3 separate regions of the Homo sapiens genome follow, and all the other regions are linked to region 1. The links come from fine-mapping of genetic effects on gene expression. A gene starts in region 1. Each other region holds a variant in brackets. All regions are shown on one strand. Distances are between the middles of the regions.

What was found. PIP is the estimated chance that this variant, and not a neighbour inherited with it, causes the effect.
Region 2: its variant is the best candidate, but not a certain one, in a credible set for the expression of EVI5 in whole blood (INTERVAL, PIP 0.59).
Region 3: its variant is the best candidate, but not a certain one, in a credible set for the expression of EVI5 in whole blood (INTERVAL, PIP 0.54).

What each region holds. Positions count from the first base shown.
Region 1 is chr1:92,782,790-92,787,029 of GRCh38, reverse strand. EVI5 (ecotropic viral integration site 5) reads left to right here and starts at 1,922. Exons shown (of 20, transcript NM_001350197.2): 1 at 1,922-2,194. RefSeq lists an enhancer at 1,522-1,801 and a silencer at 2,072-2,341.
Region 2 is chr1:92,719,836-92,724,075 of GRCh38, reverse strand. All of the region lies in intron 2 of EVI5 (ecotropic viral integration site 5), which reads left to right. Among named protein-coding and RNA genes, the nearest start is that of EVI5, 63 kb to the left of the region's middle. RefSeq lists an enhancer at 1-299. The variant A/G (reference allele first, on the strand shown) is at 1,680.
Region 3 is chr1:92,667,807-92,672,046 of GRCh38, reverse strand. All of the region lies in intron 10 of EVI5 (ecotropic viral integration site 5), which reads left to right. Among named protein-coding and RNA genes, the nearest start is that of EVI5, 120 kb to the left of the region's middle. The variant G/A (reference allele first, on the strand shown) is at 2,530.

The DNA.
Region 1 (4,240 bases):
GACCACCATAGGGAGGTCAGAAGATGCTTCTCAGAGGTGGATACTAGAGCCGTTGTCAAAGGATGAGGACTGGGAGAACTTTCTGGGCACAGAGCAAAGCATGAGTAAAAGCTCTGTTGAGGCCAGGAAGCCGGTAAATAGGGAATAAAAGAGGCTAGCGTGGCTGGAGCACAGACAGCAGGGTGGAATTGGTCTGAGCAGTGAGAAGAGGTGGAGAGGTGGGCAAGGCACCTGGCCATTCAGGGCTTGGTTAGTTAGGAGGGTTTTTTCTAAGAGAATGGGAAAGTGTTTAAGTGGTTTAGGCTGGGAAGTGACAGGGTCACACTGTTATTTTGAAAAAGTCACTCTGCCTGTTGTGTTGAGATTAGAGAGGGGATAAAGGGAATATGGGTAAACCACAAGAAGACTAGGTCAGTAATCCCTCCACCCCCACTCCCCAGGTGAAGGTAGCCTAGACTAGGGTGGTGATGGAGGAAATAGGAGAGGACAGATTCAAGGACCATTTGTAAGGGAAAAACCAATAGAATTTGCTGACGGATGGAATATAAGAGGGGAGAGGTACATTATCAAGGATGTAGCTTAGTTTTCTTATACAAGGATTGAGTTGCAATAAAATTGTTAATTGAAATTTCTTTAAATAATGGCACAACCTAAAGTTATGCAAACATATGCCTCAGATAAAAGTTCAAGTTTTCAAAGTTTTTAGCTGGGTGGAGGGCATGGCTTTACTTCCTATTTCTTGGTATTTCCTAATCTTGTTGAAAAAAAAGTAAGGTTTTTTTTTTTTTTTTTTTCTGAAATGCTTAGTTCAGTGGAAACCCATCTGCGAATTCTGTCTTATAAATTTAAATTTAAAAATAGGGATACTAATTTCTAGACAAATAATTCCGGAGTTTCTTGTGCTGCTAATTATTATAATTTTTGTCCCTTTTTTTTTTTGAGACAGAGTATCGTTCTGTCGCCCAGGCTGGAGTGCAGTGGCGCGATCTTGGCTCACTGCAACCTCCACCTCCGTGGTTCAAGCAATTCCCCTGCCTCAGCCTCCAGAGTAGCTTGGCTGGGAGTACAGGCGCACGCCACGACGCCGGGCTATTTTTTTTTTTTGTATTTTTAGTAGAGACGGGGTTTCACCATGTTGGCCAGATTGGTCTCCAACTCCTGACCTCAGGCAATCCGCCCGCCTCGGCCTCCCAAAGTGTTGGGATTACAGGTGTGAGCCACCGCGCCCGGCTGTCACTTCTAAACATATAATGAAAGTAATCTGTATTGCCTTTTTACTTTTTCTTGCCTGCTTTTCCTGGACCAGAAATTAATAGGCTGTTTCCGTCCCAAACAAAGTACTTTCCTTCTAAGAATGTCTTCGTTGACGCTGGAGGGCTGCCCGGCTGAATCTTACGTATTCGTGCCCATGTTCTGCCCCCTGCAGTAGTCTGCATAAACCCAATGCGAAGACACGTGTAAGAGTACATTACAATTACAAGTGTCATTTACGCGTTGATTATTGTTTTTGCGAGTGCCCTAAGGCCACCTCTGGGGGAGCTCGGGGCTGCCTTCCGAAGCATGCGCGTCAGCACCGCGTGCCAGGGCCCTGAAAGTCAGGCTCCGCGTCGGTGCGGCAGCGCGAGGCCTGCAGTCCTAAGCTCGGGGTCGCTTCGGGCCCCCGAGGGGGTGTGTCTTCTACCGTTTTAACATGGAAGGGGCGGTTCCAGTGGCCGGGGAAGTCGGCGACTTGCAGGACTGAAGGCTGGTGCTTTGAAAGAGAGGCGGAGGGCGAGAGCGATTTCCCCGCCTCCTCTGCACTCCGTCCAATCCCTTCGCCTTCTCCTTTTCTCGGCCGGCCCGCCCGGCCCCTAACCTGCTCCAACCCATTCTGCGGTAGAGGCTGCCGGGTCTCTTTAAGGCCCTCCCGCGCCTGCGCCTTGGGCTCTCCTGACGCGGCCGGGCCGGACCCCGGAGGAACCAGCTGGCCAGCTGGCAAGGGGCTGGCTGCAGTTCCGACAGCGGCGGTGCCGGGAGGGGTAGGTGAGGGTCGCGAGGCGGCCCTGAGCTTCTGAGTGAGCGTGGTGCTTTTGGGAACTCGGGACGGGCGACCCGTGGAGCCAGGAGCGGGGCCGAGGCGCTGAGACGCGGCGGCGCGGCTGCCGGCTGGATGGGAAGTTAATGTTTACGGCGAAGTCTACTCAACGTTTCCAAGGTGAGGGGCGCTGCGCCAGGCCGGGCGGGCCGGGAGGCCGGGCGGGCGGTGAGTCCGTGTTCCGCTGGCGCACAGCTGGGCCGAGGCGCGGCGGGCGGGGGCCGCCGCAAGTTTTGCTGTGGGAGCGGGGCGGGCGCGCCTGGCCCCGCCAGGGCCTAAGTTCCCTGCACTCGCTTCCTCGCCTGTCGCCGCCGCCGCCGCCCGCAGCCCTCCTTCTCGTGGGCGCTGGGGAAGAAACTCGTCGGCGGGTCTAACTGTGGCGTCCCAGGGCGGTGGAGGGACGGAGCAGCTTCGGGGGCACGTCCTCGTAAATCCCGTGGAGGACACTGACCCTGCACCCCACCCTCGAGGCCAGAAGTCGGTTCCCTTTGGGGACCTGAGGGGCGAGAGCACTCGCCCCCCTGACTTGCAAAGTTGGCGTCTTTACTTGGCCTCCGGGATTCTGCGCATGGCGTGTCTCCAGGCTGCTGATGGGCAAGACAGATGTGCCAGGTCCAGAATGAACTTGAGAAGAGTTTGTAGCCATTCCTGAATCACCTTATGACTAGTGGGGCAAGCCTCAAATTAACCTCAGGATTTCCGGTAGGTTGGATTGTGGTGTTGGTGTTTCCACTCAAAAGAGTTGCTGTGATTTCCCTGTGTCTGTCTGTCTGTCTGTCTTTGGGGCTTCTTAGATCATCTCATTTGGCATCCTTTCACCCAAGAGTTAAACCAAGCCTTTTGGAATGGTTTCCTCGCTTTCCTCCTATCTATTGCTGGTAGAGCTGCTTTCGAAAAGAAGTATTTTCTTGAAGTGGTATCTTTTCTTTGGGTTACAGTGTTGAATAATAAACTCCTTTCTTTGCCGAAAGAATGAATTCCAGTGCTTACTGAAGTTAAAGAAAAGTGATCTGCTGGTAGTTTTTAATCTTTGTTCTGAGCTGATGTAAGTAACTTTTTTTGTTTTAAAATTTTGTTAGTAGAATTTCACCAGTGTACCAGAAGCTCTTTTTCTTTTTCTTTTCTTTTCTTTTTTTTTTTTTTTTTTGACAGGGAGTCTCGCTCTGTCGCCAGACTGGAGTGCAGTGGCGACGTTGGTTCACTGCAACCTCCACCTCCTGCGTTTAAGCAATTCTCCTGCCTCAGCCCCGCGAGTAGCTGGGACTACAGGCGCGCGCCACCACTCCCAGCTAATTTTTGTATTTTTAGTAGAGATGAGGTTTCACCATGTTGGCCACGATGGTCTTGATCTCTTGACCTCGTGTTCCACCCGCCTCAGCCTCCCAAAGTGTTGGGGTTACAGGCGTGAGCCACCGTGCCCGGCCTTCTTTTTCTTTTCTTTTCTTTTCTTTTTTTTTTTTTTTTTTTTTTTTAAGGCTGAGTCTCACTCTGTTGCCTAGGCTGGATATATTCTCCTGCCTCAGCCTCCCGAGTAGCTGGGATTACAGGCGTACATCACCACGCCCGGCTAATTTTTTTTTTTTTGTATTTTTAGTAGAAACGGGGTTTCACCGTGTTGGTCAGGCTGGTCTCGAACTCCTGACCTCAAATGATCTGCCCGCCTCGGCCTTCGAAAGTGCTGGGATTACAGGCGTGAGCCAGCGCACCTGGCCCAGGTGGTCTTTTTTCTGTTCTAAAATGATAACTACGATTTCCGAGAACTTTGTGTCAAATAAATCTTAGAACTAAGTTATTGAAGTATAGAGAAAAAGTTCACAATTCTAAATGTGCAGGTGGTCTGGGTGCGGTGGCTCACGCATGTGATCCTAGCATTTTGGGAGGCAGAGGCAGGTGGATCACTTGAGCCCAGGAGTTTGAGACCAGCCAGGGCAACGTGGCAAAACCCCATTTTCTACTAAAAATACAAAAATTAGCTGGGTGTGGTTGTGTGCGCTGGTAGTCCGAGCTACCCAGGAGGCTGAGGTGGGAGGATCACCAAAGCCGGGGAGGTCGAAGTTGCAGTGAGCCTTGATCATGCCACTGCACTCCAGCCTGAGCGGCAGAGTGAGACCGTCTTTCAAAAAAAACAAAAACAAAAAACATCGCAGGTAATGAATTTTTACTAAG
Region 2 (4,240 bases), 63 kb after region 1:
GAGGGTCTATGTCCCACTGTGCACGCATTGTCTTGATAAACATCTTAACAGGAAACAGGGTTCGAGAGCAGACAACCAGTCTGACTAGAATTTAACAGGCTGGAATTTCCCAATCCTAGTAAGTCTGAGGGTACTGCAGGAGACCAGGGCGTATTTCAGTCCTTATCTCAACCGCGTAAGACAGACATTCCCAGAGCAGCCGTTCATAGACCTACCCACAGGAATTGCATTCCTTCCCCAGGGTTATTCCTTGCTGGGAAAATAATTCAGCGATATTTCTGCTACTCACTTTCTGCAAGAAGAAAAATATGGCTCTGTTCTGCTCGACCCCGCAAGCAGTCAGACCTTATGGTTATCTTCCCTTGTTCCCTGAAAATCGCTGTTATTCTGTTCTTTTTCAGGGTGCACTGATTTTCTATTGTTCAAACACACATATTTTACAATCAATTTGTACAATAGTGATCCTGAGGTGACGTATATTCTCAGTTTACGAAGATAACAGGATTAAGAGATTAAAGTAAAGACATGCCTAAGAAATTATAAGAGTATTGATTGGAGAAGTGATAAATGTCCATGAAATCTTCATAATTTATGTTCAGAGATTGCAGTAAAGACAGGTGTAAGAAATTATCAAAGTATTAATTTTGGGAACTGATAAATGTCCATGAAATCTTCACAATTTATCTTCTTCTGCCTTGGCTCCAGCCGGTCCCTCCGTTCAGGGTCCCTGACTTCCCGCAACAGCATGGGAAGAAGTCTGAATAGAATTAGAAAAATTGATTTATATTATTTGACAATTAGATATTGGACTTAATATCATGTATAAATATATTGTGAATGTTACTTCTGCTTAGCTTTAAAAAAATGTACTGCTGAGGTAATTATTGAAGTAATTTTATAATTTTACTGCTGAGATTATTTTTACTTTAAATAGACCTGTCCTCAGACTTGGTCCCTTCCTATTGAGATGGAGACAGACAACAGTAGCTTGAAGGAAATTCACAGGGAACAGGATTAGGAACTATAGATTTTGAGTCTGGCTTAATTGAGCCCCAGGAATAGGACCTAATATCAACTCATGCAAACCTGGTGATAGAAAATACTGCTTTCTTATCATTTCTTAGGAAGCCCTTTTAAAGGTTTTCTTTGGCTCTCAGCACTCAGTGGGTAAGGTAGAAAGCTGGGTGTGCCACATAACTTTTTGTGGGTTTAGTGTGTGTATATGTGTTTTGGTTTTAACTTTTTACCCCTTTGTTTACTACATTTGAAAGATTTTGAGCAAATCCTCTGGTCAGAAGTTTTGGGAAGAGATAGTCTTTTAAAATAATATGTAGATTCTGAAAGTTTCTTGGATAAGATGAAATTAGAAGAGGATCTTGAAAGATCAAAGTGGAGTGTTAGGTTGTGTGAGGGCTGTTATGAGCAAATAGGTTCTCAGAAAAGGAAATGAAAGGGACTATTAAATAGAGCAAAAGGAGATATGTGATAGAAAAATAGTGGGAAAACCAAACACTGCATGTTCTCACTCATAGGTGAGAATTGAACAGTGAGAACACATGGACACAGGAAGGGGAACATCACACACTGGGGACGGTTGTGGGGTGGGGGGAGGGGGGAAGGATAGCATTAGGAGATATACCTAATGCTAAATGACGAGGTAATGGGTGCAGCACACCAAC[A/G]TGGCTCATGTATACATATATAACAAACCTGCACGTTGTGCACATGTACCCTAAAACTTAAAAGTCTAATAATAATAAAATTTAAAAAAAAGATATTGATCAAAGGATATGAAATATCAGTTAGATAAGAGGAATAAGTTCAAGAGATCTATAGTATAATACAGTTACTATTGTTAATAACAGTATATTATATTCCTGAAAATTGCTAAGAGAGTAGCTTTTGTGTTCTTACCACAAAAAAAAGTATGAGAGGTAATGAGTATGTGAATTAGCTTGATTTAGCCATGTGGTACATGATAAATATATACAATTTGTATTTGTCAGCATAAAATATAATTTTAAGTAATTAAAATAGTGGGACATGAAGTTGGGGCAGGACTGACAAAGTAAAGCACTTACAGACAGTGCTAAAGGGTATAAAGGATTTTTAAGTGTTCAGTTGGTTATTATATACAAGGATGAAGTAGTTTCCAGTAAAGATAACTTCTGGTATAGATTTTGTAAGTGACCAAAGTTGAATTTATTTTTACGGTTGTGATCAGTAATTACTGTGCAACTAAAATACACAAAGCGTTATATTAAAATTGTTGTAGGTAAGGTGTGGTTGTAGATGAATTGCTTATTCCCATACAATTCACAATTTACCCCAGAATACCAGATGTGTTTAATATATATGTTGACAACTAAGGAATAATTACTGGAGTTTTAAAAAAAATTATTGTTATACTTTAAGTTCTAGGGTACATGTGCACAACGTACAGGTTTGTTATATAGGTATACATGTGCCATGTTGGTTTGCTGCACCCATTAACTCATCGTTTACATTAGGTATTTCTCCTAATGCTATCCCTCCCCCAGCCCTCCACCCCTTGACAGGCACCAGGGTGTGATGTTTCCCTCCCTGTGTCCAAGTGTTTTCATTGTTCAATTCCCACCTATGAGTGAGAACATACAGTGTTTGGTTTTCAGTCCTTATGATAGTTTGCTCAGAATGATGGTTTCCAGCTTTATCCATGTCCCTACAAAGTACATGAACTCATCCTTTTTTATGGCTGCATAGTATTCCATGGTATATATGTGCCACATTTTCTTAATCCAGTCTATCATTGATGGACATTTGGGTTGGTTCCAAGTTTTTGCTATTGTGAATAGTGCCGCAATAAACATACGTGTGCATGTATCTTTATAGTAGCATGATTTATAATCCTTTGGGTATATACCCAGTAATGGGATCACTGAGTCAAGTGGTATTTCTAGTTCTAGATGCTTGAGGAATTGCCACACTGTCTTCCACAATGGTTGAACTAATTTACACTCCCACCAACAGTGTAAAAGCATTCCTATTTCTCCACATCCTCTCCAGCATCTGTTGTTTCCTGACTTTTTAATGATTGCCATTCTAACTGGCTTGAGATGGTATGGTATCTCATTGTGGTTTTGATTTGCATTTCTCTGATGACCAGTGATGATGAGCATTTTTTCATTTGTATGCTGCATAAATGTCTTCTTTTGAGAAGTGTCTGTTTATAACCTTTGCCCATTTTTTGATGGGGTTGTTTGTTTTTTTCTTGTAAATTTGTTTAAGTTCTTTGTAGATTTTAGATATTAGCCCTTTGTCAGTTGGGTAGATTGCAAAGATTTTTTCCCATTCTGTAGGTTGCCTGTTCACTCTGATGGTAGTTTCTTTTGCTGTGCAGAAGCTCTTTAGTTTAATTAGATCCCATTTGTTAATTTTGGCTTTTGTTGCCATTGCTTTTGGTGTTTTAGTCATGAAGTCCTTGCCCATGCCTGTGTCCTGAATGGTATTGCTTAGGTTTTCTTCTAGGGTTTTTATGGTTCAGGTCTAACATTTAAGTCTTTAATCCATCTTGAATTACTTTTTGTATAAGGTGTAAGGAAGGGATCCAGTTTCAGCTTTCTACATATGGCTAGCCAGTTTTCCCAGCATCATTTATTAAATAGGGAATCCTTTCCCCATTTTTTGTTTTTGTCAGGTTTGTCAAAGAGCAGATGGTTGTAGATGTGCGGTGTTATTTCTGAGGCCTCTGTTCTGTTCTATTGGTCTATATCTCTGTTTTGATACCAGTACCATGCTGTTTTGGTTACTGTAGCCTTGTAGTGTAGTTTGAAGTCAGGTGGCATGATGCTTCCAGCTTTGTTCTTTTTGCTTAGGATTGTTTCGGCAATGTGGGCTCTTTTTTGGTTCCATATGAACTTTAAAGTAGTTTTTTCCAATTCTGTGAAGAAAGTCAATTGTAGCTTCATGGGGATAGCATTGAATCTATAAATTACTTTGGGCAGTATGGCCATTTTCACAGTATTGATTCTTCCTATTCATGAGCATGGAATGTTCTTCCATTTGTTTGTGTCCTCTTTTATTTTGTTGAGCAGTGGTTTGTAGTTCTCCTTGAAGAGGTCCTTCACATCCCTTGTAAATTGGATTCCTAGGTGTTTTATTCTATTTGTAGCAATTGTGAATGGGAGTTTGCTCATAATTTGGCTGTCTGTTATTGGTTTATAAGAATGCTTGTGATTTTTGCACATTGATTTTGTATGAAGTT
Region 3 (4,240 bases), 110 kb after region 1:
GATTCCTTGAGCCCAGGAGTTCAAGACCAGCCTGGGCAACATAGTGGGCCCCTGTCTCCACAAATTTTTTTTTTCAAATTGCCAGGCATGGTGGTGCATGCCTGTAGTCCTAGCTACTCAGGAGGCGGAGGAAGGAGGATCACTAGAACCAGGGAATTTGAGGCTGCAGTGAGCTGTGATCATGCCACTGCATTCCTTCCTGGGTGACAGAGTGAAATCCTGTCTTAAAAAAAAAAAAAAAAGATGATGGTGGCTTGGACTGAGGTAAGAAGTAATTGGATTCTGAATAGATTTCAAATATAAAGTGGACAGCTAGAATGTAGAGATGTGTGAGGAGGAGGAACCAAGCCTTGTGGTCTGAGCAGGTAGATAAATGGTGTTCCCATTACCTGAGATGGGAAAGACTCCAGAAGGATTTGGTTTAGTGGGGATACCAGGAGCCCAATTTTGGGTATCTTGGGAATGAGATGCCTAGGAGATGTCCAGTTAGCTTCTTAAATATTCAGATCTGAAATTAAAAGAAGCCAAGCTCAAAATATAAATTTGGTAGTTATTGGCGGGGTCATAGTATTGAAAGCCATGAGAATGGGTGAGATTACTTGGGAAAGGATTGTAGATAAAATAGAGAAGAATTCAAGAATTGAGCCTGAGAATAAACCAACATTTAAAGATGAGGAAGACAAGTAGAAAGTAGCAAACTAGGAGAAAACCAGGTAGGTGTAGTTCCCAGAAGCCAAGAGACAGTGAGAAAGAGAGAAGGATTTACCATGTCAAATACTGAAGAGTTTTTGTGAAATGAGGATGGAGAAATGACCATTGCATTTTCCAGCATGATTATAATTTATCCTAGAAACGAGTGGAGCAGAATGGTAGGTACTAAAACCTAACTGGAATAGAAGAAGAAAAATTAGAGATATTTTTCAAGGAATTTACTATAAGGATAAAAGAAATGGGACAGTAGCTAGAGAGGGTAATTATGTTGAATTTTTTGTTTCTGTTTTCTGTTTTTTTTTTAAGATAGGAGAAATAACTGCATGCTTTTATGGTGATAATCAAGTAGGAAAAATTTATCATTAAGAATGGGGGATAATCACTGGAGTCAGGAAGATACGGAATTTAGTGCGAAGTTAGGAGATGTAACTTAGTATGCTAGCATGAGTAGTTAATACACAATAACAAGAAATCAAAATATATGGGCAAAAATGCAGGTAGGATGTAGGATGTGGTTTTGGGAGCTTGTGAAATTCTCTTCTAATTGCCTCAGTTTTTTTCAGTGAAATCATATGCCAGATTATCAACTGAGAGACAATGGATTGGAGGGTTGCTGGTTTGAAGAAAGAGGAATAGGTATGAAATAGTGACCTAGGGGGATAGAAGAAGGACATTATTATTGCTAAGAACCATATTGAATTTAGTGATCAGTAATTTAAATAAACGTCATGGTTTTGTTTTTGTTCAGTCATATTTACTGGCATAGGTACAGACTCAAAATTGTCAGATAGTTGATCCAGAGTAGTGTTTTTTCCAGGCAGTTATACTACGAAGGGAGAGAAGGGCAAGGGGGCTTAAAAGCAAGGGAGCCGTATAATGATTGCAAATTAAACTTTGTCAAGAAGGAATAGAGAACATCAAGGATTGAGGGACAGTGAAAAGTTGTTGGGATCACTAGACTGTCTCAGTGAAAACAATTGTTGGGGTTGGGTTACTTTGTAAACTGAGTAAGCTGGAAAGAATAGGAAATAGTGATTGAAGAGTGGGTTATTTGAAATGAGATTATCCTATTTCAGGATATAAGGTTGTTTTCAGTTTTTCTTATTAAAAATAATGCTAATGGTTAACATCTTTGTATATAACAAGTTTTTTGTCTCCTATTATTATTTCCATAGCCAGTTATAAAAAGTAGAATTAATAAGTTACAAGATATTAGCATTTTAAAGACTTTTGATGTATAATACGTAAATTTCCTAAAGAATGTGTCCAGGGTATGTTTGTCTTAGCAACAAGTTTCCATTTAATGACTACTTTGCCAACACTAAGTATTTCATTCTTGCTCTCACTTTTAGTCTCTTTTTTTTCTAATTTGGTAGGTCAAAAAATTGTCTCTATTTTCTTTTTCAATGTACAAGATAAACATTTGTATGTAGCTATATCTAGGTATCTTCCTCTCTGTGGTTTTCACTTTAAAGTTTAGGAAGCACTCTATTCTAGAAAATGTGAGGAAGATATTGAAGAATTATTGAGAATCAATCAGGTGGTAGATTTTAGTTATTAACCTTTCTATGTATCGTCAATAAACAGTTCAAAAATATACTGGAAGAAGTTCCATTTGAAATAAAAATAAAAGTATATCTAGGAGTAACCTAAATGAAAAATAGAATAGGACCTAACAAACACTGGAAAACTTTACACACAGACATTTTAAAAAGATAACTAAAGATAGACAAAAATAGCTCCATGTTATATAAAGATATGAATTTCCCAGTGATTTTTTTTTTTTTTGAGACAGAGCCTTGCTCCGTTGCCCAGGCC[G/A]GAGTGCAGTGGCATGGTCTTGGCTCACTGCAACCTTCACCTCCTGGATTCAAGTGATTCTCCTGCCTCAGCCTCCTAAGTAGCTGGGATTACAGGCATGCGCCACCATGCCAGGCTGATTTTTGTATTTTTAGTAGAGATGGGGTTTTGCCATGTTGGCCTGGCTGGTCTCGAACTTCTGGCCTCAAGTGATCCACCTGCCTTGGCCTCCCAAAGTTCTGGGATTACAGCTGTAAACCATTGTACCTGGCCCTCAAATTCAGTGAAATTTAATTCCTTGTAAAATTCCAGGGCAATAAAAAAATCTTAAGAATAATTCTAAAAATAGACAAAAGTAGTAAAATAATATTCATGCCTAACTTCAAAACTATTGTGGGCAGTGCTTATCATTAACTGAGTATTTGGCATATATTAGGTGCTATGCTATCTCATTTAATTTTTCAGTTCCCTGTAGGTTTGATTACTCTTAATTTCTGGATGAGGAAATGGAGATTCTAAAACATTGAATGTCATGTGCAAGTGTTAATTGTAGAATGAGAATTTGAACTTAAATCTGCCTAACTTCAAAACCTAGTCTCTTAGCTACTTTAGTATACTAGTATTTGGGGTTTGGGAACAATAAACAAATGTAAGAACAGGGGATATTAGCTCTACTAGGTATTAAAACAGATAGCAAAGCTATAATTACCAAAATACTGTGATATTAGTTTTAAAAAAAGAAGACAGTAACACTTGAAACGTAAAAGTAACCCTGAAATGGTCTGTATTAACTGAAAAAGTCTATTGATCAATTCCTGATGTAAATATTATACAAATGAGGAAGTGGTGATTTATTTTTTAAATGGTGTTAAGCATTTGGTTAGTTGTTTGTGGGAGAAAATCAATTTAGATTTTTATTTATAATGAAATAGATTTCAGAAGCCGTAAAAGGGGTTGGGGAAGGAAATCCAGATGAGTGTTTTCAGTTCTAAATTTTATTTTAGCATGATTTCTGTCATAACTTTATTCACTCAGTTGTCTGGTGGGAACTTAGTTTTCTAAATCTTTTAAGATAAAACATTACCTTTTGTTGATGAAATATGATTGAGAACATTTTGAGAATCCCATTTATTTCTTTGGCTCTCTAGACTTTAGCAGCATTTAATAATTGCTTATTTGTGTAGACTACTATGCTGCACACAGTAGGAGGAGCCAAGACATAAGAACATTTTCTACTTCTCAAGCTGTTATTTTGTCTGAGATTAGTTATTAACTTTCCTGTATATCATAATGTCTATTTCAGATCATCTGAATTTTAGTGAATAGAACAAGAAATCTAATTTGCCAAGTATCTTTGTAATAACTCTAAGATTTGTTTCAATTTGTGATCCACTTTAATAAGATGCAGTAATTCATAGAGTCTCTCATTTCCCTGAACTAATACTTTATATGTTATATAAAGCCATATTTAAGTCTTTACTGGCAAAATAATAGGTTGAATTGATGGAAGAATTTTCTGAGACAGACATTTTTTAGCAGAAATTTATAGGAAGGTGGGGCTGGAAGAAGGCCCTTGATTGAGTTCTGGAACAAATTGGTACAAAAAAGTAAGTTATCACCTTGAGGCCGGGCACAGAGGCTTATGCCTGTAATCCCAGCATTTTGGGAGGCTGAGGCGGGCGGATCATGAGGTCAGGAGATCAAGACCATCCTGGCTAACACGGTGAAACCC